3 separate regions of the Homo sapiens genome follow, and all the other regions are linked to region 3. Evidence: fine-mapped expression QTL. A gene starts in region 3. Each other region holds a variant in brackets. All regions are shown on one strand. Distances are from middle to middle. Region 1 has its middle 37 kb from the start of MCUR1. Region 2 overlaps MCUR1 (mitochondrial calcium uniporter regulator 1). Region 3 holds the start of MCUR1 (mitochondrial calcium uniporter regulator 1).

What was found.
Region 1: its variant is fine-mapped to the expression of MCUR1 in whole blood (INTERVAL, PIP 0.98).
Region 2: its variant is fine-mapped to the expression of MCUR1 in tibial nerve (GTEx, PIP 0.97).

Annotation. Positions count from the first base shown.
Region 1 is chr6:13,773,577-13,780,788 of GRCh38, reverse strand. No RefSeq gene overlaps it. Among named protein-coding and RNA genes, the nearest start is that of MCUR1, 37 kb to the left of the region's middle. The variant A/T (reference allele first, on the strand shown) is at 4,665.
Region 2 is chr6:13,782,298-13,792,810 of GRCh38, reverse strand. MCUR1 (mitochondrial calcium uniporter regulator 1) reads left to right here. Exons shown (of 9, transcript NM_001031713.4): 8 at 819-933; 9 at 1,947-6,254. The coding sequence ends at 2,002. Among named protein-coding and RNA genes, the nearest start is that of MCUR1, 27 kb to the left of the region's middle. RefSeq lists a silencer at 3,490-3,658 and an enhancer at 4,327-5,159. The variant C/T (reference allele first, on the strand shown) is at 5,465.
Region 3 is chr6:13,810,076-13,820,588 of GRCh38, reverse strand. It overlaps MCUR1 (mitochondrial calcium uniporter regulator 1), which reads left to right and starts at 6,032. Exons shown (of 9, transcript NM_001031713.4): 1 at 6,032-6,574. The coding sequence starts at 6,160. It overlaps LOC107986571 (a long non-coding RNA gene), which reads right to left and starts at 6,779. Exons shown (of 2, transcript XR_001743986.3): 1 at 6,500-6,779. RefSeq lists an enhancer at 5,565-5,664 and silencers at 5,825-6,094, 6,175-6,844.

The DNA of each region.
Region 1 (7,212 bases), 38 kb after region 3:
TTCTGAGCTCAAGCGATCCTCCCACATCAGCCTCCTGAGTAGCCGGGACTACAGGCACGCACCACCATGCCTGGCTAATTTTTTAATTTTTTTTTTCTTTTTGAGGCAGAGTGTCACTCTGTTGCCCAGGCTGGAGTGCAGTGGTACGATCTTGGCTCACTGCAACCTCTGCCTCCCAGGTTCAAGCAGTTCTTCTGCCTCAGCCTCCCAAGTAGCTGGGATTACAGGCACGTGCCACCACGCCCAGCTAATTTTTGTATTTTTAGTAGAGACAGAGTTTCACCATGTTGGCCAGGCTGGTCTCAAACTCCTGACCTTGTGATCCACCCGCCTCAGCCTCCCGAAGTGCTAGGATTACAGGCATGAGCCACCACGCCCGGCATGCCCAGACTGTTTTCAGACTGATGTAGTATCCTTCTTCGTGCCTCAAACTAGGTTCTGTTTAGACATGTTACAAGTTAGTGTGCGTTTATGTTGGTGCAAAAACATCTTAAAATCCATACATAGTTTTTTTTCATAATATGCATTTTGCATGAACTTTTTGAAGTCCCCTTGTATAGTGTTGGCTTTGCCATATTGTTTTAATTAAATAAGAGTAGCATAACCTAGGTACAACACCTAAGAAGGAGCAGGAACCCTTTAGAGGCCTACCAAACCCCACATAAAATAAAAAATTTTAAAGTATTGAGTTACTGAAAAAAAATTCCAGGCCGGGCATGCTGGCTCATGCCTGTAATCTCAGCACTTTGGGAGGCTGAGGTGAGTGGATCACCGGAGGTCAGGAGTTCGAGACCAGCCTCACCAAGATGGTGAAACCCCGTCTCTACTAAAAGTACAAAAATTATCCGGGCATGGTGGCATGCGCCTGTAGTCCCAGCTACTTGGGAGGCTGAGGCAGGAGAATTGCTTGAACCTGGGAGGCGGAGGTTGCAGTGAGCCAAGATCGAGCCACTGCACTCCAGCCTGGGTGACAGGGCGAGACTCCGTCTCAAAATAAATAAATAAATAATAAATTCCAGGCACCTAACTAGCCCTAAAAATGAACAATAAGCAAAAAATTAATTAAAGAAACAATAGCAAAAAAGTTAAAGTCATGAGATATTTGTGTTCCCTATAAAAACTAATGATAATGGCCAGGTGTGGTGGTGCATGCCTGTAATCCCACCACTTTGGGAGGCTGAGGTGGGTGGATCACCTGAGGTCAGGAGTTCGAGACCAGCCTGATCAATATGGTGAAACCCTGTCTCTACTAAAAATACAAAAATTAGCTAAGCATGGTGGCAGGCACCTGTAAACCCAGCTACTCGGGAAGCTGAGGCAGGAGAATCGCTTGAACCTGGAAGACGGAGGTTGCAGTTAGCTGAGATCGCACCATTGCACTCCAGCCTGGGGGACAGAGCGAGACTGTCTCAAAACAAAAACAAAAACAAAACAACAACAAAAACTAAAGATAACATGTGAGCATATATCCCTCGGTTGTTTTTCAGAAACCCAGATCCCCACCGAATGGATCCACTGGCACTTAAACCTCAAATAAGGGAGAACTGATGGCTAAACTGTAACCACTGTTCTTTGTTCTAAATTTCTTCTTCCTGAGCAGGCTACAAAAAGTCACACCCTCGAGCCAGAGCTACCATTCTTTTCTACTGACCTCAAATCTTTAAACAAAGCTCTTTTTTAACCAATTACAAATCAATAAATCTTTAAATCCACCTATGACCTATGGGTCCTCACATCGAGATGTCCTCCTTTATATGAGAAGCCAGCATGTAGCCTCCATATATTAATTTATGACTGCCTATAACCTCTGCCTTCCCGCCTTTAAAAACCCTTACCTGTAAGCCTCGGGTCTTAAGCATGAGCTGCCTGATTCTCCTTGCTTGACACCCTACAAATAAACACCCCCAGATCACCTGAGGTCAGGAGTTTGAGACCAGCCTGGCCAACATGGTGAAACCCCATCTCTACTAGAAATACAAAAAATTAGCCTGGCGTGGTGGCACGCGCCTGGAATCCCAGCTACTTGGGTGGCTGAGGAAGGAGAATCGCTTGAACCTAGGAGGCAGAGGTTGCAGTGAGCAGAGATCACGCCATTGCACTCCAGTCTGGGAGACAGAGCAAAAATCTGTCATAAATAAATAAATAAAATAAACGCCCCCCTTTCTCCCACTACAAGCCTCAATATAGATATTTGACCTTACTACACTGGGCAAGTAGACCCTAGTTTGGCTCAATAACACTCCCCTCCCTTTAAAAGGGGCAGGAGTAGAATTCCAACACCTGTTTCTTTTGCTTCTGTTGCCTTAGGGTGGGTGCATGGCAAAAGTATGTACTCCTGTACACCACCCCTCTCCTCTTTCCAGCTTCCTGGTTCCATCTTTTCTAACTATCACCTACAAGAATAACTCAGATCATATATACTTGGTCTGAAATTTGCATGATTATGGGAAAAGAGTACTAAAATCAATTTATATTTGGTAGAATTCGTGGTTGGTAAGGGATGACTGTGGCTTATGCGTGGTTGGTAAGGGCCCTCGGCCTTATTCATAGGGTGGTAAACCTAGAAGTCATTGTGTCCTCTACTGAATTTGTGGAATGCTGCAAATTACTTATGTATCCGATTCCTTCATCCAACCTAGGAACAGAAAATACAGCTATGATACCAGTATGCAATTAACCACAAGGTTGGATACTTATGAAAACAAAAAAGCTGTTGAACTACTCCTGCCCCTTTTAAAGGGAAGGGAGTGTTATCGAGCCGAACTGGGGTCTACTTGCCCTGTGTAGTAAGGTCAAATATCTGTATCGAGGCTTGTAGTGGTAGAAAGCAGGGTGTTTATTTGTAGGGTGCCAAGCAAGGAGAATCAGGCAGCTTATGCTTAAGATCTGAGGCATATAGGTAAGGGTTTTTAAGGCAGGGAGGCAGGGGTTATAGGCAGTCATGAATTAATTTTTTGAGCTTTCCCTATTAATATTTATGTGAATGAGCCTGGACAACATGGTGAAACCCCACCTCTAAAAAATACAAAAATTAAATACAAAAAATTAGCCAGGCATGGTGGCAGGCGCCTGTAGTCCCAGCTACGTGGGAGGCTGAGGCAGGAGAATGGCGTGAACCCGGGACACGGAGCTTGCAGTGACCTGAGATCACGCCACTACACTCCAGCCTGGAGGACGGAGCGAGACTCCTTCTCAAAAAAAAAAAAAAAAAATTAGCTGGGTGTGATGACGCAGGCAGGAGGCTCAGGCAGGAGGATCACTCAAGTCCAGGAGGTCAAGGCTACAGTGAGCTCTGATCATGCCACTGCACTCCAGCCTGGATGACAGAACAGGACCCTGTCTCAAAACAAACAAAAAAACAGAAAGAAAGAAAGAAATGTATGTGGGCTGGGCGCGGTGACTCACGCCTGTAATCCCAGCACTTTGGGAGGCTGAGACAGGCAGATCACCTGAGGTCAGGACTTCGAGACCAGCCTGGCCAACATGGTGAAACCCCGTCTCTACTAAAAATACAAAAATTAGCTGGGCATGGTGGCAGATGCCTGTAATCCCAGTTACTTGGGAGGCTAAGGCAGGAGAATTGCTTGAACCTGGGAGGTGGAGGTTGCAGTGAGCCAAGGTTGCGCCATTGCATTCCAGCCTGGGCAACAAGAGCGAAACTCCATCTCAAAAAAAAAAAAAAAAGAAAGAAAGAAAAAATGTATGTGAATGCCTTTGCTTGGTTGTAAGCACCAGCAAGTGCTAGTAGGCAAGCAGTAGCAAATCTCCAAAGCTTAGAACTCCATGGGAAAACATTTAAGATGGAGAAAACCGTACCTATTACCTTTTTCCTGAGACTTAACAAAACCATGATTATTTCGTTTTAGCAGCACGATATCTTGTTACGGTTGCTAAAAACCAGTTTTTACAGGCAGATATTTGACCAGTAAGAATACTATGAGTCAGGAGCCCTGGCCGTAGCTCCCCACCTTGCCACTTGTTGCACTCTTGGGAAAACCATTTGACCTTGCCAAGCCTAAGTCTTAGTCAGTCCGGACTGCTATTACAGAATACCGTAGACTGGGCGGCTTCAACAACAAACGTTTCTCTCTCACAATTCTGGAGGCTGGGAGGTCTGAAATCATGGTACTGGCTGGCAGATCTGGTGTCTGGTGAGAGCCCACTTCCTGGTTCACAAATGGCTGTTTTCTTGCTGTGTCCTCACACAGAGTGGAGAGACGGAGGAAACAAGCTCTCTAGAGTCTCTTCTTTTTTTTTTTTTTGAGACGGAGTCTTGCTCTGTCGCCCAGGCTGGAGTGCTGGGGCGCGATCTCGGCTCACTGCAAGCTCCGCCTCCCGGGTTCACGCCATTCTCCTGCCTCAGCCTCCCGAGTAGCTGGGACTACAGGCGCCCGCCATCACGCCCGGCTAATTTTTTGTATTTTTAGTAGAGATGGGGTTTCACCGTGTTAGCCAGGATGGTCTCGATCTCCTGACCTTGTGATCTGCCTGCCTCGGCCTCCCAAAGTGCTGGGATTACAGGCGTGAGCCACCGCGCCCGGCCTAGAGTCTCTTCTTATAAGGGCACTAATCCTATCATGAGGGCTCCATGCCTATGACCTCCTCACCTCCTCATACCATCACACTAGGGAGCAGGGTTTCAACACAGGAATTTGGGGGAACAC[A/T]AATTCAGTCCAGAGCACCTTAGTCCTTATGTTTCGAAAACAACAACAACAATAATTATAATAGGAATGCTTATAGAGCATTTATTTACTGTATTCCAGCTGTAGTTTTTTGTTTGTTTTTTGTTTTGGTGGGGGTTGGGGTCTCGCTCTGTCACCCAGGCTAGAGTGGAGAGATCTCAGGTCACTGCAGCCTCCACCTCCCAGGCTCAAGCAATCCTCCCACCTCAGCCTCCCAAGTAGCTGGGACTATAGGCATGTACCACCACACCCGGCAAATTTTTTGTATTTTTTGGTGGAAAAGGAGTTTCGCCATGTTGCGCAGGCTGGTCTCAAACTCCTTAGCTCAAGCTATCTGCCTGCCTTGGCCTCTCAAAGTGCTGGGATTACAAGCATGAGCCACTACACCTGGCCTCCAGACATAGTTTTTTTGTTTGTTTGTTTGTTTTTCCGAGACAGAGTCTTGCTCTGTCACCCAGACTGGAATGCAGTGGCTGATCTCAGCTCACTGCAATGTCCGCCTCCCGGGTTCGAGCAATTCTCCTACCCCAGCCTCCCAAGAGCTGGAATTACAAGTGCCTCCCACGATGCCTGGCTAATTTTTTTTTTTTTTTTTTTTTTGTATTTTTAGTACAGACACGGTTTCACCATGTTGGCCAGCCTAGTCTCGAACTCCTGACCTTGTGATCCACCCGCCTCAGCCTCCCAAAGTGCTGGAATTACAGGCGTGAGCCACCGCGCCCGGCCCAGGCATAGTTTTAAAGTAATCACAATCTCATTTAATCTTCATCACATCCCTATGAAGTAAGTACTACAGTGATCTCTATTTTGCAGATGAAGATACTGAGGTATAGAAAGTTTCAGTAGACTGGATGAGGTGGCTCACACCTATAATCCCAACATCTTGGGAGGTGAAGTTGGGAGGATCCCTTGAGCCCAGAAGTTTGAGACCAGCCTGGGCAACATAGGGAAACTCCATCTCTATTTATTTAAAAAAAAAAAAGAAAGAAAGAAAGAAAGAAAAAAGTGGGCCTGGCGTGGTAGCTCATGCCTGTAATCCCAGCACTTTGGGAGGCCGAGGCAGGTGGATCATCTGAAGTCAGGAATTCAAGACCAGTCTGGCTAACATGGCAAAATCCTGTCTCTACTAAAAATATTAAAATTAGCCAGGCACAGTGGCGTGCACTTATAATCCCAGTTACTCAGGAGGCTGAGGCAGGAGAATCACCTGAATCCAGGAGGTGGAGGTTGCAGTGAGCCGAAATTGTGCCACTGCACTCCAGCCTGGGTGACAGAGTGAGACTCTGACTCAAAAAAAAAAAAAAAAAAAAAAAAAAAATAGTAATAAAAAAGTTGAAGTAACTTGCCCAAGAACACATAGCTAATAAATGGTGACGTCAGAGTCAAACCGAAGCATTCTGATTCCAGGGAATAGATACCCTACCTGGCTGACCACATGTGGTAAGGATCAAATGAGGTCAAATACATGAAAATATTTTCTAAACAATAAAACCCTGGCCAGGTGCAGTGGCTCACGCCTGTAATTCCAGCACTTTGAGAGGCCGAGGCAGGTGGATCACAGGTCAAGAGTTCAAGACCAACCTGGCCAAGATGGTTAAACCCCGTCTCTACTAAAAATACAAAAAAATTAGTCGGGCATGGTGGCAGGTGCCTGTAATCTCAGCTACTCGGGAGACTGAGGCAGGAGAACAACCTGAACCTGGGAGGCGGAGGTTGCCCTGAGACGAGATCATTCCGCTGCACTCCAGCCTGGGCAACAGAGTGAGACTCCATCTCTAAATAAATAAATAAATAGTAAAACCCCATACCTACATATAAAATGTGTAGTCTGCATGCAATAACTGGAATCCTTTGCTAGTAATTACTAGTAATATTACTTGCCCAACCACCAAACAAGCAAACTTCTGTTAGTACCCTCCCTGGCAACCACCCCAGGGTACTAAGGTGAATTTACTAAGATGCAGTATCCTAGTAAAAGAACATTCTTCTTCGAGTATCTAGGGTACAGACTGTAGTAGGTATTAAAACAACGTAGGTAACCCATGGACATATCCGTAAGCTCTCAAGTGTTATACATCAATCTTCCATGCAGACCCCAGGGTGATTGTGAATATTTATATTTTTATTGGGGAATCTTCGTATAAAGGGGTTGATGTTGACATGGAGCCCACTGTTTGGGTCTCAGAGTCACCCTGAGTTTAGGCCTTAAATACTTGTTTGATTCAGTACCCTTGTTTTTGAGACAGGGTCTCACTTGTCACCCAGAGTGCAGTGGTGCAATCTCAGTTCACTGCAACCTCTGCCTCCTCATGCTCAAGCCATTCTCCTACCTCAGCCCTTCATATAGCTGAGACTACAAGCACGCACTACCATGTCTAGCTAGTTTTCGTATTTTTTTGTAGATAGTGTTGCCATGTTCCCCAGGCTGGTCTATGAACTCCTGGACTCAAGAAATCCGCCTGCCTTGGTCTCCCAAAGCGCTAGTATGTCTGGAACTGGTAGGTTCTTGATCTCATTGAAATTATGAATG
Region 2 (10,513 bases), 28 kb after region 3:
GGATATTTCTCTGGAATACTTTTTTACGCATCCAGGCATTTATTTCTTTTTTTCTCTGCCTGAATTGGTAGCCATAGGGAAAGATTTAGTTGCTGTAGGAGTTTTAGTGAAGGATTCCCATGGTTTTTATGCTTTAATGCAGTTCTACAACCCCCTATAGCGTCGGCCAAACCCACTGCCTTTTTGAGGGTTGATTATGTGTCCAGTTTAACTGTATTGTATTTGGGGAAGGACACAAATTGGCCGTGGGTAGCCAAGCCTCATAGTAATGAAACACTTGATATTTGAACATGAAAGAAGAAAGTTTTTTAAAAATATGACTAGAAATAGCTCAAGACAAGCACTGCCGCTTTCACATTATCTAAGACTCCATTTCTTGAAAACATTTTTGAGTTTACTGTCTATCTTTGACTAAGGAGGATTTAGAAGGATGAGACGTAGCCGTTGCCTTTGAGAACAGACTGGCCTCATAATACCACATCATTTGTATAGCAACCTAGAGCTTACAAATGCTTTTTCACATAGATTATCGCATTTGATTCTCTAAACAGTCCAGGTAAAGGCAGGGCCACTGGCTTGGTTGTTTCGTTTTGTTCTGTTTTCATTTTTTCAAATAGAAGAAAACTAAGGCCTAGAGAGGTTAAGGGTCCTGACCAATGCAGCGTAGAATTAGGGTTTTAGAACTGAGACTAAAGCCCAGGCCTCCATAGTCTTACCCAGGTTTCCCTGTGACTGCACCCCGTTGGGAAGGAGCTATAGGATGGTGAGCAGAGGGGACGTGCTGTGGTCTAACGCTGTGACTCTCTTCATTTTAAAAGCATGCCCAGCAAGATCGGGCCCTTACCCAGACAGACAGGAAGATCGAAACTGAGGTTGCTGGCCTCAAAACCATGCTTGAGTCACACAAGCTTGATAATATTAAATATTTAGCAGGTAAGCTATTTTGTATCTATTTAAATCAACCTGAAAAGAAAATAAATTTATAAAATAAGTCGTTGACAGATACTGCATTTCATTGATTCCAACACTTTCTGAAATATTTTAACATCTCTGAAATTGGAAAGCATCTTACAATTTCCAGTAGATGAAGTATCATAGTTTAATTGGCACTTTTTCTTTCTTAGTAGTAAATAAAGTAATTGTGTACGTTATAATTGATAGAATTGGAAATTTGATAAGATACTATAATTGAACTATAGTTATTAGGGATTTTAATGAGATTCAAGACAGGAAATATTTTATGGATAAAATGGAAGGTGTTTCAGTTGTAATCTTTCTGCTTCAATTGCTTAAACTCCTTTTAAGGAGTTATTTTACTTTCGCGATTTTTGATCCAAAAGAGAGAATGAACATTCATGTACCACCCCCCACCCAAATTAACCATTATTTCAAGTCAGATTTAACGTCTTGGATTAATTAAATATTTTAAGGTTACAGCATTATTTAACAGTGAAATGTTGTTCTTTATATTAAATTGTGTCTTCCTGTCTCTATAGTGCATATACATAGACCTTGTGACCACAGAATTTTTGCTATTCGAAACTTTTATTGAAAAGTTTTCTTAGCCTAGGCAACACAGCGAGACCTAGTCTCTACAAAAAGATTTAGCCGGGCATGGTGTCATCTGCCTGTAGCTTCAGCTTCTTGGGAGGCTGAGGCAGGAGGGTCACTTGAGCCCGGGAGTTTGAGGCACAGTGAGCTGTAATCATACCATTGCATGGTGCACTCCTCCTGGGTACCAGATGAGACCATGTCTCTAAAATAAGAAAATAAAATAAAGGGTGTGGGATTTGTTTTTTCAGTAGGCAGGCGTTTCACGGAATATGGGACATCAGTGAGCAATCTAAGTTTCTAGGTTTTCTTTTTTAGGTTTTCTTAAAAAAAGATGTTCCCTCAAGTAACTCTTAATAGAACTAATAGTACTCTCAATTGTTTTTTTCTTACAGGGTCTATATTTACGTGCCTAACAGTAGCTCTGGGATTTTATCGCCTGTGGATCTAATAAAGTGTCTATTTAAAGTGATTTCTACTGTTTTGCCTTAAGAATACCAGATTGTTGGCTGGGTGCGGTGGCTCACACCTGTAATTCCAGCACTTTGGGAGGCTGAGGCAGGTGGATTACCTGAGGTCAGGAGTTCGAGACCAGCCTGGCCAACACGGTGAAACCCCGTCTCTACTAAAAAATTAAAACATTAGGCGGGCGTGGTGGCGGGCGCCTGTAGTCCCAGCTACTCGGGAGGCTAAGGTGTGAACCTGGGAGGCGGAGCTTGTAGTGAGCCGAGATCACGTCACTGCACTCCAGCCTGGGCAACAGAGCGAGACTCCGTCTCAAAAAAAAAAAAAAAACCGGAATACCAGATTGTTGTCCTTTTGTTTTCTTGTTACACATTTGAGCCCAGATTTTGACTTAATGTGTATTATTTATTTTTATGAAAATTGTGGACACATAACCAAGATAAAGAAGTCAGGTATTCCATAGCCATTCCTTATCTCCTTTCTGCTTAGTTGACTTTCTAGCTGAGTGGTGCACAGTGCATGGAAGATTCCACTTAGCCGGACCAGGAAGCTTGGTCTCATCTGTGGTGCACACCAACAGCAAACATTGATGTAATTCTCTACAACTTAATCTTTGGCACATAGAGGATTTGGGGGTCTCCATGTTCAGGGCACAATGGCTTTAATAAGTGCTGGAAAATCACTGAAGCTAAACCAAGAGCACCAGATCCTCTTTACCTAAATAACCAGTCTTTAACATGAGCTAGTCCCTGTACCATAGTATTGTTTCAGCTGTAGTTGGTTGTCATGTTAATAAGACAGCTGCACGTCTACCTTCTTTTCTTTTGATTTCCATTGTCTTGGTAAGTTATTGTTAGGGTTATTTTTAATGTGCCTTCCAGCCAGAAAAATCAGCTGTCTAAAGAAGCATTGCAATTGTAATGGGGACTCTTACCTCTTAGAATGCAAGATTTTCCCTCCTCCCTCCCTCTTCTCCATCTCTTTCCCTCATGATTTGAGAACTGTAATAATCCTCCACTGGTGGCATTACCTACCTAGAAAACCTGCTGATTCTTAGCATGGAACTTTGCTTCAGTTTGCAGGACAAAGTCTGCTTCCTTCCGGTCTTCATTTACTTTTTATACAAGGGATGCAGTCAGCTCTCCATGTATAAGATACCTAGATGATGGATACATATTTCATAAATGAAATTTATGTCATTAATGAATATCCCCTTGCCCACAACCAGCTCAGGCTTTCAAAATTCGAGAATGGTCATGCCACACAGCATTCTAATCTAGATGGATTAATTCTGTTGTTCAAAACATTCTCATACCTGCCTTTATATTGAAAACAAATTCTAGATACAACTGGGGTTATTCTGGAAAAGCACATTCTCACCTTTTTTTTTTTTTTGAGACGGAGTCTCGCACTGTCGCAGGGCTGGAGTGCATTGTCGTGATCTCTGCTCACTGCAACCTCTGCCTCCTGGGTTCAAGCGATTCTCCTGCCTCAGTCTCCTGAGTAGCTGGGATTACAGGTGCCCACCACCACGCCCAGCTAATTTTTGTATTTTTAGTAGAGATGAGGTTTCACCATGTTGGCCAGGCTGGTCTCTAACTCCTGACCTCGTGATTCACCCGCCTTGGTCTCCCAAAGTAGTGGGATTACAGGCGTGAGCCGCTGCGCCTGGCCCATTCTCATCTTATTCAAATTACTGGCACATGGGCAAGAGAGACAATGACATGGATAGAAGCTTTTCTGCCTTTCTCTGCACACACATACAGTGAAGGAACCACAGGCAGATTTTTTGATCAGTTTGGTGAATACATTGCTCGTTGTCACTGTTCCAACCACATTGGTAAAAAAAATAGTTACCTTTTGTCCTTTGGATGTCATGTCTAAACTTTGGAAAATATAAGTCATTGCCCTTTTAGAGAATGTTTGTGTAGTCCAAAGATTGTGAGCTCCATATAGTATGAAAATCAAGTACTTTTGCATGAGCAATAGCAGTTTCAAAGTGAAATATTATAATTTAATCTTTTTCAAGTAGATCAAAAATTCTTAACTGATTAATAAAATATTTTATCAATATATCATCCCCCTTTCAGAGAGAAGTCCCCAGAAGAGACAGCACACTTAGCAATTGCCCTCATTATTAAAGGCCTAGGTGAGTGGCATAAAGGGCCATATGCGATTATGTTTCAAGGTAAACATTACCTAACCTTGTGTGGGTTAAAAACAGTGAAGTGTCCTTGTATCCTGATAAAATTTTTTTTTAAATAACATGGTGGGTTGACATTTTTGCATCTGCTATAAGTTTTCTCACATGTCGTTCTTCCTGGTGAGAGCGGGCTGCATCATTCTGGCACTTAATTTGGGTGTTCGATTTTGCTATAGAGTTCTTTGCAGTACAGCATAGCCTCTTCTTGGCCTTGGGAACAGTGAACTCTTCTTTTGATGGTGTGGATTGCATGCATATCTGGAGAGAGGAGGGCTCAGGACTGTGTTCACTTTATTTGGTCAGATGTATTTTATTTGAAAACCATTTGAGCCCAAAATACAAGTGTACCCTTCCCACTTCTGGCTCAAGCACCCGTGAGCCGACTAGACGTAATATTAAAACTTACTGATGCTGGGTGCGGTGGCTCATGCCTATAATCCCAGCACTTTGGGAGGCCAAGGCAGGCAGATCACCTGAGGTCAGGAGTTGGAGACCAGACTGGCCAACATGACGAAATGCTCTCGCTACTAAAAATAGAAAAATTAGCCAGGCGTGGTGGCACACCCCTGTAATCCTAGCTACTCGGGAGGCTGAGACAGGAAAATTGCATGAACCTGGGAGGCAGAGGTTGCAGTGAGCAGAGATTACACCACTGCAACGAGACTCGGGCCCAGACGAGATCTGCCTGGGCGACACAGTGAGACTCTGTCTCAAAATAAATAAATAAGTAAATAGAACCTCCTGAGCTACCCTGGCTTATAAGGATTCAGATTACTTTAGGAAATTAGGCATTAGCACTAGGAGGGGGGAAGATGGCTGGCAAAACTTCTAGCTAGCAACCTATGTCTAGCACATGGGTAACTAACCATAGCGAGATCCTGAACACATATCCTCTAGGTGCAGGTGGAGGGAACGATGTCCAATACCTGAAGCAGAATCTCACATGGACGGAACGTCTGTATTTCCCTCTCCTGCACGAATCACTCATCATTCTTGGAGGGCTTCTCTGCATTCCTCCTTTTCTTCTCTCCCCTCCCCTGCCTTTTGTCTTTTCTAAAGAGTCTGAACTCCGATTTCCATGCTCTCCTGCTACATTAATAAGCAAAACCTGCTTGTGTGTACGGTTCTTTACTGGAAACATGACTTTTTGTTTCTGTATTGGTTTTACTGTCATCCAGTTTTCTAGTTTAATATCTAGCAAAACTAAATCTGAATGTACTCGCTTTTTCCGTTAAGTATGCCAAG[C/T]ACCTCGGTTGAAAGGCTTGACTCAAACCAGAAGTCTTGCTGGAATTCGTCTCTGAACACTTGAAAAACAGAAACCCTGAGCCGCAACAAACATGCCTCTGTGTGTCGGGATTGCCTTTGTCTCTGCTTCCATGTGGCTTTTCCTTTTGTAGCTATGCTTAGTGACATAATCTTCCCTCTTCTAGCCTTCTCCTTTCAAGCCTGTCTGTTAATTAACCATGTCAGTATTGGCAAGCATTTATCTTCCCCCACCCTAACATGCAATCTTCTAAGAATTTTGCAAAATTCTAAACAAATATAGAGATGGTATATAGAATTCATATCTAGAAAACTTTGATTTTAATGTGAGCTTATCAAATTTGTTCTGGCTTTTTTGGCACTAAGGCAAAAACATGTTAACCAGAAATAATTTATTCTTCATGTATGTAAAATATTTGAGAATGTTTAGCCTTTTATTAGAATTTTATTTGGAAAATATTTATCTTTCTACACATTTTACACTTATGTTCCTTTGCTTATAACCCAATTTCTTAACTTTTTTGTTACTTAAGCAAATATCAATTATGTTTTATTATCTAATAAAGTGTAAGATTCTTACTATCTAAAATATTTAATTCTGTGTGACTAATATACTTTTCTGATCATTCAAATTGAATATGAAAAGCTAGAATAACTGTATTGCAACTGTTAATTCCAGCCAATTGTATAATGATAACACTGGTGAATTTCTAAGTAAATCTAATACTTGAAAATTTGGGTATACATAGAAAATAAATTTTAATATAATGTACAAAGTAACTTTTCATCATTCAAAAGAATTTCTTTAGCATGTTCATGTTATGAGTAATTTTATACAAGCTACTTGTTTGAGGGGAAATGATGAGGTTTAAATACAGGTTTTTAGAAATAGACAATTTTCTTTTTTTTTTTTCTTTTGAGACAAGATACTACTATTGCCTAGGCTGGATGGAGTGCATTGGCGCAGTCACTGCTCATGGCAGCCTCGACCTCCCAGGCTCAAGCGATCCTCCCACCTCAGCCTGGGACCCAAGTAGCTGGGACCACGGGCATGCGCCACCACACCCAGCTAATTTTTTTTCTATTCTTTGCAGAGATGGTGTCTCACTATGTTGCCCAGGCTGGTCTCAAACTTCTAGGCTTAAGCCATCCTCCTGCCTCAGCCTCCCAAGTGCTGGTACTACAGGCATGAGCCACTGCACCTGGCTGAGAAATACACAATTTTAAAAAATATCTGGCCGGGCACGGTTGGTCTTGTCTGTAATCCCAGTACTGTGAGAGGCCAAGGCGGGTGGGTCACTTGAGTCCTGGAGTTCGAGACCAGCCTGGCTAACATGGTGAAACCCTGTCTCTACAGAAAATAGAAAAATTAGCCGGATGTGGTGGCACACACCTGTAGTCCTAGCTACTCAGGAGGCTGAGATGGGAGGATGGCTTGAGCCCAGGAGGTAGAGGCTGCAGTGAGCTGTGGTTGTGCCACTGCACTCCAGCCTGGGTGACAGAGCCAGACCCTGTCTCAAAATAAAATAAAAATAGCTATAAGGATTCATGGAAATCCAAATCAGGCTAGCTTGAGCAGAAAAAAGAATATCCTTTTTTGGCTTATGTAACCAAGGTTCAGGAAGGACCAAAAAAATGCCATTGTGAGAACTCCCCTCTGCACCTCTTACCTTTGCTTCTTCTCTGGAGGGCATAATCCTCCTAGACCTACTTCTTCAAGCACAGAGAGCCTGTGTGTCTGCAGGAAACACCCAGTACATCCCCTTACAGCTTAATGATTAGTGAGCTCCACCCTGAAAAATCTTGGGAAGGAAATATCTAAAGCAAGCAGCTGGGGTCACAGGAAGCAGAAGGGTCCTCAGAGGGATGCACACTTCACCTTCCCTGAGGGCCTGTTGAGCAAATTCCCCACCTCCAAAAAATTGAGCTCTTCTTGAGTCAGCCTGTGTGGGTTGATCTTCAGTGTAATTAATACCTGCTCAGGAGGAGAGGAAAGGAACATCTCAGAAAAGGGGGTAAATGAAATACAGGTCTGGGCACGGTGGCTCACATCTGTAATCCCAGCTCTTTGGGAGGCCAAGGCAGGAGGATCACTTGAGGCCAGGAGTTCGAGACTAACCTGGACCACAAAGCAAGACCCTGTATCTAAAGTGAATGAATGAATGGTAGCCTGGAAATTTCAGTTACATCTCATTTTCTCCAACCAGAAATCTTGTACCAAAGTTAGAATCAAATAACTAGACTTGAGGGGGAACTGCAAAATTTCCAGAAGGCAACTAGCAGATGAGGTAGGCAAAGGCGGTAAATGATTTGCAAACTCAACCTTCAAGTTCAAAAATGGTGGGCAATGTGTTAGATTTTAGTCATCCTTCCACATCTCCCCTAGGTCCCCATTTCACATCAGTGGTAGGGGAACAAACTAAAAACCTTTTCTTTGCCTTGAGTTTTTTATTTCTTTTTCTTTTCCTTTTTTTTTTTTTTTTTTTGAGATGGAGTTTTGCTCTTGTCGCCCAGGCTGGAGTGCAGTGTTGTGATCTCGGCTCACTGCAACCTCTGCCTCTCGGGTTCAGGCAATTCTGCCTCAGTCTCCCAAGTAGCTGGGATTACAGGCGCCTGCCACCACGTCCGGCTAATTTTTGTATTTTTTGTAGAGACGGAGTTTCACCATGTTGGCCAGGCTGGTCATGAACTCCTGACCTCAAGTAATCCGCCCACCTCAGCCTCCCAAAGTGCTGAGATTAGAGGCGTGAGCCACCACTCATAGCCATGATTTCTTTTTCTTTTTTTTTTTTTTTTGAGACGGAGTCTCGCTCTGTCGCCCAGGCTGGCGTACAATGGCGCCATCTCGGCTCACTACAACCTCTGCCTCCTGGATTCAAGCGATTCTCCTGCCTCAGCCTCCTGAGTAACTGGGATTACAAGTGCCCGCCACCACGCCCAGCTAATTATTTTGTATTTTTAGTAAAGACGGGGTTTCACCATGTTGGCCAGGCTGGTCTCTAACTCCTGACCTCAGGTGATCTACCCACCTCGGCCTCCCAAAGTGCTAGGATTACAGGCGTGAGCCACCGCGCCTGGCTGATTTCTTTAAAACTAAGAAGATTGTCTTAAAGGCATTTTCTAGAAACAGCTTTCTCTCTGGCATCCCACAGCAGATCTCCTCCAGTTGTTCCGCTGCCCATTTTGTCTCCACCTTAACTCGGCAGTTTCTGTAGGAGGTTCTTGCCAAGGACCCAAGGAGGGTGGCCTTTGGGACACTGCAGAGGGTGGCCACTGTCAGCCACCAAGGTGTAAGCATCAGCATCCTTAAATAGAGATCAGTGAGATTTTGGTCTTCTTTTATATATCACAAATCTGCAGATAAGTATTTTTAGGCAACACCTTCCGCAATGAGTAGTTGAAACATGTAGGCATTTTATAAGGTCCCAACTTGCCCTTTCAGTTTAAACTAATTTTTTTGTTTGTTTGTTTGTTTGTTTTTTGTTTTGCACATACTCTATGTTTCGGTAAACTCTGATTGGTTGTCCATGATTCTGAAGGTTCAGGTCAGCTTAATGTTAAAGCCAGGAAGAGGCACTCCCGGTTTCAGCTTAGTGTGGCATTTCTGCAGTTAACGTCTTAACAACAAAGGTTTTAAAAATACTTCTTGCTCCGCCACCTCCAGGCTTCACAGTGTTCATTCCCCCAGTGGAAAAGACACAGTTGCTTCATAGCATCTTGTCCCCTACAGCATGAAAGTCAGTGTCTTTTCCTAACACAGAAGTATTTTGCTACTATTTGTCTTTTACATTTGTGTAGTATTTTATGGAGTGCATGAACCTCACAGCCTTCTGAGGGGCGCTGTAATAGAGAGTGTCTCTCTCTAACCTCAAGAATCTCTGTGAGGCCGGGCGCAGTGGCTCATGCCTGTAATCCCAACTCTTTGGGAGGCTGAGGTGGGTGGATCACAGGGTCAGGAGTTCAAGACCAGCCTGGCCAACATAGTGAAACCCCGTCTCTACTAAAAAATACAAAAAAATAAGCCAGGCATGGTGGCAGGTGCCTGTAATCCCAGCTACTCGGGAGGCTGAGGCAGGAGAATCACTTGAACCCGGGAGGCAGAGGTTGCAGTGAGCAGAGATTATGCCGTTGCACTCCAGCCCAGGCAATAGTGTGAGACTCTGTCTCAAAACAAAAAAGAATCTCTGTGAAAATTTGAACAGACTTCGTGAGGAAAAGATGGAGGCCTGGAGGATCAAGATACACAGTGACCTCATGAAAACGCTTACATGTATTTTGTTGACATTTGTATCCCGTGGATGCTGTCAACTGCAGTTAATGTGAAATGAGCAGTGGCTTACACCTAAGAACTTCTGTTTCTTAAATCTAAAATGGGTGATCCTCAGGGTTGGATTGGCAGCTCAACAGTGCCTACAAGGATTGGAGCTCCTTTGGTCTTTCCTTTCTTACCTTCCTATACGTGTCAGCTTTCAGCTTCAGGCTGGGGGTTTATCTGATCTCAAGGGGGCTACCACCGCTCCAGGCATCACATCCTCACGATAGCACCCAGAGGAGGGTGCTATCAAGAAGGGAGGGAGGTGCGAAAGGGCCCTTCTCATGTGTCTCTCTCCTTTAAATCAGGGAGAAAAATCTTTTCCAGAATCTTCCCTGCCACAGGAACCCCCGCGTGTCTCTTAGAACAGGATTGGGTCACACAGACTGGTTGCAAAATGGAATTTTTAGCTTTTTCCGCTCCTCTGGTAGGAGGTGGACAAGGAAGAAGAAGTTGGAAGTGGTTTTCGGATGGGCATTCATCAGCATTGGTTACCAGGTTCACAAAAATAAAACACAGGCTGCAAACTGAAGAGAACCATACAGCGAGTGTTAAGTTGCCATCGCTTAGTAGCTAGAAATACTGCAGAATGTCCCCTCCTTTGATTTCCAGTGTCATGTGGTAATTTCGGTTCATTCTGTTTCACATAATTTTACCAGCTCTCTACCGAATCTTAAATTACTTTTTTTAATGTTATGGCTAGTTTCTAGGACCCCACT
Region 3 (10,513 bases):
TTTAAGTAAGATTTGTACTAAATGAAATGCTTAAACGGGAGAAGTTAGTTATATCTTGACCTTCCTTAGGTCCTCTTGGTTACCATTATATGGTCCAGTGGCAATTGTATTGTCACACGCCTTTCTTACTCTACTTTACACATTAGTTTCTGATTTTTCCTCCCTTCTATCTTTTTTCTCATCTCATGACACTGGCGGAGTGGCTAACATAGTTAACTATGTGTAAAATAAGAGTAAGTAGGCTCAGAATGAGTGCCTAATAGACTTTATTGTGGCATAAAGAGCTCAGGTTTGGTGAAGGTTACTGATAAAACTCAGAGGCATTCTTTACTTCCAGTTTCAGGGCTATGTTCTTAAATGCAGATGTTATCAGGAGTCTGACTTTCATACAAGGGAAGAGAAAGGATCAGGGAGAATCCCTTCTATTTCTCTCAATTTCCCATCTTAGTACACATTAGAAAAAACTTTTATCAAGACTTTCACCTCCTGAGGAGCATCCTCGTTTCCTCATCCTTGACTTTTGACCTACGTATATTATTATAACTGATGTGAGTGTCTTGTAGGCAGTATATAACTAGGCTGTGCTTTCTTCTTTTTTTAATCCATTCTGACATTCTCTCTGTTTTAATTGGCATGTTGAGACCAAAGGTTGGCCAACTATGGCCCATGGGCCAAATCCAACCCACCACCTGTTTTTGAACAGAACAATATGTAAAAGAGATTGCTTATGGTTCACAAAGCCGAATATTTACTATATGGCTTTTTAAAAACATTCCTCAACCACTGATTTAGACCATTTACACTTAATGTAATTATTGATATGTTTAGATTGATGCCTAATATTTTATTGTTTGCTTTTAGTTTTTATCTCTGTTTTTTGTTCTTCTATTTCTCCTTTCCTATCTCCTTTTGGGTTACTTGAACATTTTTTAATATTACATTTTATCTATTATGTGTTTTGACTTGATCATAGCTCACTGCAGCCTCAAACTCTTGGGCTCAAGTGATTCTCCCACCTCAGCCCCCTGAGTAGCTAGGACTATAAGCATTCACCACCATGTCTGGCTTTCTTTTTTTTTTTTTTTTTTTTTTTTTTGTAGAGGTGGGGTCTCACTATGTTTCCTAGGCTAGTCTTGAATTCCTGACCTCAAGCCATCCTCCCACCTCAGCCTCCCAAAGTATTGGGATTACAGGCATGAGCCTCTGTGCCCAACCTATATCTCTTTGTACAGTATCTTTATGGGTTGCTCTAGGGATTACAGTAGACATATTTAACTTTTTCTAACTCTACTTAGAATCAGTATTTTACCACTGTAAGTGCAATATGAAAACTTCACTACCATATAGGTCTCTTTATCCTTGCCCTTTTATTTTGTAGTTATTATATACCACATCTATAAACATTAAAAACTTCACCATTGTTTGAATTTTTGCTTTCTATCATTTAACATATTTTAAAGAACTAAAGAGGAGAAGAATATTATACTTATCTTGGTATTTGCCATTTCTGTTGCTCTTCCTTTATTCCTAATGCTCCAAGTTTCCTTTTGGTATCATTTCCCTACTATATGGTGAATTTCCTTTAGCAATTCTTTTAGTGCAAGCTTACTAAAAACAACTCCTCTTAGTTTTCCTTCATCTGAGGATGTCTTTATTTCATCACTTCATTACTGAAGGATATTTTTGCTAGTAATAGAACTATGGGTTGACAGTTCAAGCTAGGGGAGCTCATACATTGGAAAAAATACTAAACTAAACATCAGTTCAGTGGTACTTTGATTTTTGTCTTCTTCACTGATGTGCCTGCTATTATTTACTTTTCAGAGTCCTCAAATAGTGGCTCTATGCATTCTGTCCAGCTTTTATGCCTGCATTCAGGTGGAAAGACAGGGTGGAGTGTGCTTATTCCATTTTACCCAGAAGGAGAATCCTTTCTTCACCCTTTAACACTCTTCAATTACGGAGAATAGTAGTTTGATTAGTGGAAGTTGACATTCCCCCATCAGTGTTTACTAGTAAGAGTATCAGTATGCTAAAGGTCACATCCAGGAATGTTCCAACTCCTTTGTTCTCTCTTTGACCTGCTTGCACCGGGGACAATGAGCCCTTGACCTTTCTGTTACTACCTGCTAAAACAGACCCAGTAGATCTTTCAGGGATAGCTCTGGCCATCTTCCATCTCTTTTCTCCTGATGACACCTAGAATATATAAGGCCACCTAAACTTCTCACAGATGGTGGCTAAGTCAGAGTCTGCTCTGTGAATCCAGCTTTACTCATGGGAGGTCCCTAAGTCTAGATACAGAGAGAGAGTAAGATGGCCCCACTTTGGCCCCAGATCCAAGTATATTCACCAATCCAACTTTGTCATAAAGTCCAACTTTGTCATGGTTCACATGGGGGTTGTCTGGCTCCTGCCTGATCCATTAATTAGTTGATACTTCTTCTTCTTCATTGGCCATTAGATTCCTGTATCTAGTCTCTCTATACATAGACAGAAGTCTAACATGTCTAGATTATCCTAATGTACACTAATGTATCCGGGATAGGAATCAGAAGCCCTATCCCAGCTGGTTTAAGTAAAAGCAACTTATTGGATTACATAAATAAAATGCCAATTTCAGCCTAAGCTAGAATCAGACGCTCAAAAGGACCCGTCTCTTCATTTCTCAGTCTTCTTTTCTTCATAAGGGCTTTAGTCTTAGGCCACATGGTAGCCCCAGGAGCTCATGGTTCAAATCATCCTATACCTAGACATCACAATAAAATAAGACGACCTCTTCCCAATAGTTCCTATTAAGAACCCTAGAATTGGGCCAGGCGTGGTGGCTCACACGTGTAATCCCAGCAATTTGGGAGGCTGAGGCAGGCAGGTCACTTGAGGTCAGGAGTTTGAGACTAGCCTGGCCAACATGGTGAAACCCCGTCTCTACTAAAAAATACAAAAATTAGCTGGGCATGGTGGTGCTTGCTTGTAATCCCAGTTACGTGGGAGGCTGAGACAGGAGAATCGCTTGAACCCAGGAGGTGGAGGTTGCAATGAGCCAAGATTGAGCCACCACACTCCAGCCTGGGCAACAGAGTGAGACTCCATCTCAAATAAACAAACAAAAAAAGAATCCTAGAATTGAAGCTTTTTTTTTTTAGATGGAATTTCACTCTTGTTGCCCAGGCTGGAGTGCAATGGTGCAATCTCAGCTCACCGCAACCTCCACCTCCTGGGTTCAAGCAGTCCTCCTGTCTCAGCCTCCCAAGTAGCGGGGATTACAGGCATGTGCCACCACACCCAGCTAATTTTGTATTTTTAGTAGAGACGGGGTTTCTCTAGACTGGTCTCCAACTCCCGACCTCAAGTGATCCGCCCTCCTTGGCCTCCCAAAGTGCTGGGATTACAGGCGTGAGCCACCGCGCCCGGCTGCTCATTAACTCTGATTGGGTGACATGCCCATGCCTGTGGTCTGCAGAGCGATCAGTCTCTCCAAACCGCATGGACTGAGAGCAGAGAAGAGCCACTGCCCATGGAAAACTAGGGTGCTGAGACCAAAAGAAAGGGAATGCTTTGGAAAATAAAACAACAGGTGTCACATCCAAGGAAAAGTGGATGCTATCCAACCTGTAGTTAGAACTGACATTCATTATACTCCTATCATAGGCCAGGCACTGTGCTAAGTGCTTTACATATGTTATTGTATTCAATATGGCTGGTAATAGTAATACATGAAAAGTTAGTCAACATCATTAGGCATCAGGGAAATGTTATGTTAAAAATCACAATAAGGTACCATTTTATGAGGACTGAAAATATCAAAATTTGGCAAGGATGTGGAACAACCGAAACGCTCATCTATTGCTAAGAGTGTGAAAGGGTGCAGTCGCTTTGGAAAAACAATTCAGCAGTGTCTAAAGTTAAGCTACCATATGATTCAGCAATTTGACCCAGATACTTTCCCCAACAGGGATAAAAATTATGTCCACACAAGGTCTTATACAAGAATGTTCATAACGCCCTATGCATAATAGCCAAAAACTATAAGCAAAGCAAATGGCCATTAATAGAATGGATGACCGCTTGTGGTATGGTCATACAATGGAATACTATTCAACAATTAAAAGCAACTAATTACTGATACAACAGCATGGATGAATCTCATTGATATTGAAGTCAGACGCAAAGCAGAAGAAAGACACAAGGCAATGCATATTGTAGGTCTCCATTTACATGAAGTTCAAAAAAAGACAAAACTAATCTATGGTCATTGAAATTTGAAAATAGTTGGCCGGGCGCGGTGGCTCACGCCTGTAATCCTAGCACGTTGGGAGGCCGAGGCGGGCAGATCACAAGGTGAGGAGTTCGAGACCAGCTTGGCCAATATGGTGAAACCCCGTCTCTACTAAAAATACAAAAATTAGCCAGGCGTGGTGGCAGACACCTGTAATCCCAGCTACTCAGGAGGCTGAGGCAGGAGAATTGCTTGAACCCGGGAGGCAGAGGACACAGTGAGCTGAGACTGCACCACTGCACTCCAGCCTGGGTGACAGAGCAAGACTCCGTCTCAAAAAAAAAAAGAGAAAATAGTTGCCTTGGGGTGGTGGTGGATTGTCTGGAAAACTGGCACAAAATAACTTTCTGGAGCAATGAAAATGTTCTAGATCTTGACTGGGTGGTATATACAACTGCTAAATGTCATCAAGTTGCTAAATGACATTTATCAACTGCTAAATGTCACCTAAGTCTGTGGAATTTACTGTATGCAAATTATACCTCAATTTTTAAAAATTACAAAGGACTAACATTAAAGTTTGTGCCACAGTTTAATCGTTCCTCTAATGTTGTGCACTATTTTCCCATTTTTTCACAATCACAAATTATGATACAATGACTATCTTTTGTGCATATGTGAAATTACCAATATTAAGCATTTTGACCCATAAAAATGACAAGTTTGTATAGTCAAACCTAGTAGATATTTAATATTTTGGATTATTCCCATTATCCCCATTTTTAGTTAGGTGACTTGAGAAAAGTTTACAAATTTTTGTTGATACTCATTGCTAAACTGCTTTTTCTACCAATTTTATAAATGTATACTCCTTTTACAAAAGTGTCTTAGGTTGGTGCAAAAGTAATTGCGGTTTTTGCCATTACTTGCAATGGCAAAAGCCGCAACTACTTTTGCACCAACCTATGACTTGAATCCTGTTTTTCAGTTCTTCAAATTTTGATAGACACTTATCTTGCACATCCATATGCACGCTCCTCTCTTCCCAGCACTTTGTACATCTCTCATGGCTCATAACACATTCTTCCATCACGTATGTGTACACATATGGCTGTATAGGAAAACAGCTTCTGGAGGATAAGAACAATTTGTTTTGCGGTTTTTTATTTTTAATAAAATCTCCTAGCTTGGTGCCTTATGCATTTCATTTATTTATTCAACTAACATCTTCCAAATTCACATAAGGGACCAGTTATCTGTGAATGGTGTAACAGGCCTTCAAAAAGTCCACGAAACTAAACATTACCAGTTTCAAATATACCCGACAGGTCTCATTTTAACATTCATGCCCCACGTTTTAAGTTCCCAGATTGCTACCTTCCCATGTTTTTGGTGCTCTAATCTGGAAACAAAAACTCTGAAAATTTAGTTTTGAATGTATTATGTGAGGGCCTTTCCCTGGGCCCTGCTAATAATTCCTTAAAATGCTCCCCAGAACCACATGTTTGGGGACTTAGGATAATCAGTGAAATCTAGGGCAGCCTGTCGGTCTGAGACTTTTCACAGGACTCTGAAGGGCACCGGGGTAATTCCTTTTTAAGGACAGCAGTGCAGTGAAAATGCAAATCGTGACAGCAACAAGCTCCTTCCAGTTCCGGAGTGCCCGCAGGCTCCTCCCGGTCGCCGCCGTCGCCTAGCGAATGGGGTGGGGGCTCGCACGGTCCCCGCATCTCGGAGCGCCACGGCGGGCTCCTGCCGCCCCGCCCCACCCCACCCCCGGCGCGCGTCCCGAGCCCCGCCCGCGCGCCCGGCAGGAAAGGGCGGTCCTGCGCTGTGGCCCACGCTCGCTCCCGCTGTCGGACTCTGGGCCTGGACCGCGCGTGGCCGGCGCCAAAAGCGAGAGGCATGAGCGCGCGCCCGGGCCAGTGAACTGCTCGGGGATGGACTGCGGCTCGGTCGGCGGCCAGAGGACCCAGCGCCTGCCCGGCCGCCAGCGGCTTCTCTTCTTGCCCGTGGGCCTCAGCGGAAGACCGGGCGGCAGCGAAACCTCAGCACGCCGCTGCCTCTCTGCGCTCTCCGACGGTCTGGGGGCGCTGCGCCCTCGCGCCCCGGCGGCCCGCGGCGGCGTGTCACGTGCCTCACCGCTGCTCCTCCTCCTGCTAGTGCCCTCCCCGCGCTTGGCCGCCGCAGCCCCGCGCCGGCAGCTCGGGGACTGGGAGCGCTCGCGCCTCGGGTATGCCGCACCCCCGGCCGGGCGCAGCAGCGCGTGGAGGTGCTCACCGGGCGTCGCCGCTGCCGCCGGCGCCCTTCCCCAGTACCACGGCCCGGCGCCTGCACTCGTTTCCTGCAGGAGAGGTGAGGCCCGGGCGGGAGAGGAGAGGGGGCTCGTCTCGCGGGGTTGGACGGCGGGGCGGGGATCTCAGCTACAGCCTCCCCGAGGAAAGGCCCGGCAGGCCGGAGGGCGGGTCCTCCAAGGCCACCGGCATCTGCCCGGAGCGTGGGTCGAAGGTCCGGGCCCGCCCTGCTCGGCCGCGGTGGCGGGGCTTAGCCCAGAAGAGACGAATTCCTGGGAATCCCGGGCGCTAAAGTTGGAGGGAGGTGCGTGCTGGGGCGGGGAGTTGGTGCCCGCCCACTCCTAGGGTCTGCTTTTGGGCGCCGCCTTCCAGGAGTTCTGTTTGGCAGCGCCCAGCCTGTTGGGCGTTCAAGGGGAAGGGGTGTGTATGTTTGAGCAGCAAAGCTCTGGGAAATGAAGGGATTGCTTTACAGTTTGATTTCAAATTCTGATGGAATCATTAATTCGTGGAGTCCTAGCGTCTGCCCTGTCCCTGGCGCTTTTCTAGATGTGTGAGATATATCAGTCCACAAAATCTTCCCTCTGGAGCTTAATTCTAGCAGAGCAGACGCAGTAAATATGTGTGTGTGGATATACGTATGCATAATTGATGTATATATAATTTATATATACAAATAATTTTTATATATTCGTAATTCGATGCCTGGTATAGAAAAATAGGATAAGGCTTGGGAAGTGGAATGGGTCTCCAGTTGTGAATTTAAATAGGGTGATCAGAATCGATTTCATTGAGAAGGTAGCATTTAATTAGAGTCATGCATCTCTTCAGGACAGTCGCCTACTGAGAAATGAGTCATTAGGCGACTTCTTCCTTGTGTGAATATTGTAGAGTGTGCTTACACAAACCTGGATGCTACAGCCTACTACACACCTAGACTATCAGGTAGAGGCTAGTGCTCCTAGGCTACAAACCTGAACAGCATGTTACCGTACTGAATACTAGAGGCAATCTGAACACAATGGTATTTGCGCATCTAAATGTAGAAAAGGTAGAGTAAAAATATGTATTATAGTCTCATAGACCACTGTCGTGTGTGCCCCTCTGTCCTGGGCTGAAAGGTAGTTGTGGGGCTCATGACTATTTAAAGGAGGTGAGAGAGATCACTGCCCTGGAGATGAGGAAAGTAAATAGAATCAATTTATTAGATAGCATATTGTTGATTAAAGAAAAAAATCATTTCTGATAATCAACAGACTTGGCAAAATTATCACTTTGGGCAGTCTATACATATTCATTAGTAGCCATCACTAACTACACATTTTTCATATTTTCTTCAACAGATAGGCCCACTAAATGTTGACCATATCTATAATTTAAGAATATCATTGGCTGGGGTAAAAACTGATTAGTAGAGCAATAAAGTGAAGGAAACTTTATATACAGAGAGTGGGGAATGAGTAGTGAACTCGGTGTCACTGTCCTTCAGTAATTAGGAGTCGGAGATGAGTTTGGTCTTTATTCTGTATTTTGCCTTTTGTTGCGCTTTTTCTGACAAGCTAGTAATTTCCAATTTGTTTTTCTCTCAATGCAAGAGTATAGGGCAAAAAGAGAGTGTTCTTTCTCACGGATTTGCTGACCAATCGGTAAGGTGGTACTGTTGTTTTAGTGTCAGCTATCTCATTCTTCAGTCATCATAAAAAATGAGTATGGATGCATAAAAACAGAAGAGAGCAGAGACACAGTTAAGGAAGCATGTATGCCCATTAACCAGCCAATGAGCGTTTCCCAACCATTTGTTTGCTTGGTGCCTGAGGTTCTCGGTTGAGCTACTTAAGGATGTCATGAGTAGGAAGTTTGTATTTGGTTTCCTCATCCTGTCCAAGGCTACCTTTGGGCCTCTATTGTAATTGTGGGTTTTTAATATTCTCTTGATATGCTGAAGGTCCCCAGAAAGGGGAATTGCATGTTACACGTTGACACAGCTCAGTTGGCTCGCTTCCTTATGATCAGTGAGGAGTCTGGGAGTTGGCGGTGTCCTCAGGTACTGCCCTTTGACAGAAGGCCAAGAGGGCATTTCCTTCCCTCATCAGGGGTTGGAGTGACCAATGGAAAGTGGCCAGCCCTTCTGTCGACCTTTCAGAGGCAGGATTTCTTGGAAATAAGCTTGCTGTTTCTGGTTCCAATCTTTTTGAAAAAGAACAACAATAACAAAAAAACTGTAGTATCCAAATTGGCGTTACAAAGTAGTCATGTGATTGTTTTGTTTATGTGGGGGTGGGGGTGAGGAGGTTATGTTTTAAATACATGAATGATTATTTTCTTACTAGAAACAAGGAATTTAGGTCTAGAGTAACCCTGTCACTCTTCACAAGTCATTCCAGACTCAGGTGTTTTCGAGCTCCCTGACACATGGGGCAGTCCAGTAGAGTTCTGGGGCAGGTGAGGTGGTCCTTAGGAGGTCCCCTGGAGAAGTGCTTTCATTCCTTCACTCCCACTGTTTCTCAGGCTAGGTCTCTTCTGTGTTGGGCAGACATCCTGGGTCTCTTCTCATGGAGGCCAGTTTTAGTCTCAGGACTGGAAATAAACTAAAAAAGAGGTACCAGATTTAAGTGAGCTCGTTTATGTGAAAAGGGAAGAACTGAGGAGAAAGGAATTCATCTCAAATTTTCCCTCTAGACAGTTTCATAATCCAGATTGTAGAAGTCATTACAGTTCAATTACCAAAAAAAAAAAATTATTCCTAGCCTGCTGTATGCCAGGCCCCTTGCCAGATGCTAAAGATAAAAAATGAGCAAGACTGGCTGCTCCTGGGCAGCTTGGACAAATAGATGATACAGATGAGGAAATAATGTAGTAAGTGCTACGATGAGCTATCTGTACTGAGCTGAGAACACAGGTATGGGCTCAATAAAGGTTGCTCCCTTAGCTGGGTGGAGGAAGCAGAGAGAACCATAAAGTGTAAAAAAGAAAATGCCACACCTGGAACATAATGTATACTCAGTAAATTGGCAATTTAATGAAGAAGGGTAAAAAGAATGCTTAAAGTTTAACGATTGGGAAAGGGGAGCAAGCCATGCTTAAGCATGCAATTGCAGGAAATAGAATAGCTTAGGTTGCTAGAAAGAAAGCTGAAAGGATAAGCGTGGTCATAAATAGCAAGGGCTTTGTATGCCAGGTCAAGGACCTCCTGTCATAGCACAGTGGTTCTTTGAATCTCAGGGCCCAGTTTTACCAACAAACACAAACACACATAAGTCATTGCACTTTATATTGTGTCAGTCTGCAAATGGTTCTTGATACAGATATGGATTATTGCATCTCTTGCACTCATCTGGATGCTTACAGTGACCACAGCTACCCTCCCCTTCCCAAGCTGTGAGTAGGCTGGGAACAACTCCCATAGGCTGCAGCAAAGCGTCACATTTGTAGGGTTCAGTCCATTTTTTTGTTTTGTTTACTCTCGATTTCATTATAGGGTAATCGGGGTGAAGGACTGAGAGTGGAAGCTGATCAGCTGGAGCATCTTTCTGGTCATTCAGAGGCCTGCTGGGGAAACCTTTGACCTTTGAGTTGGCAGGTGACCCTTCTTGCTCCTACCAGACTTCTACAACACCAGACCTCAGACTGGTGCCAGTTAACGGCAAAATTAGAAAAGTAATGACAAATATGTAGCAAGATTTTCATATACTAAGTTGATTAAATGGAAGTTCTTTTGATTGTTCATCTTTTTTTTTCTTTTGGTGTCATAATGTCTTTTTTAGTACAATATTTAATAGTAGTAGTAAGCAGCTATATTTAAAAGTTCTTTCATGACACAATTAAAAATTGGCAACTCAAATATTGTTTATTTATTTTTAATTAATTTTTTTTTTTGAGATGAAGTCTCGCTGTGTCACCTAGGCTGTAGTGCAGTGGTGCGATCTTGGCTCACTGCAACCTCCGCCTCCCAGGTTCAAGCAATTCTCTTGCCTCAGCCTCCCGAGTAGCTGGGATTACAGGT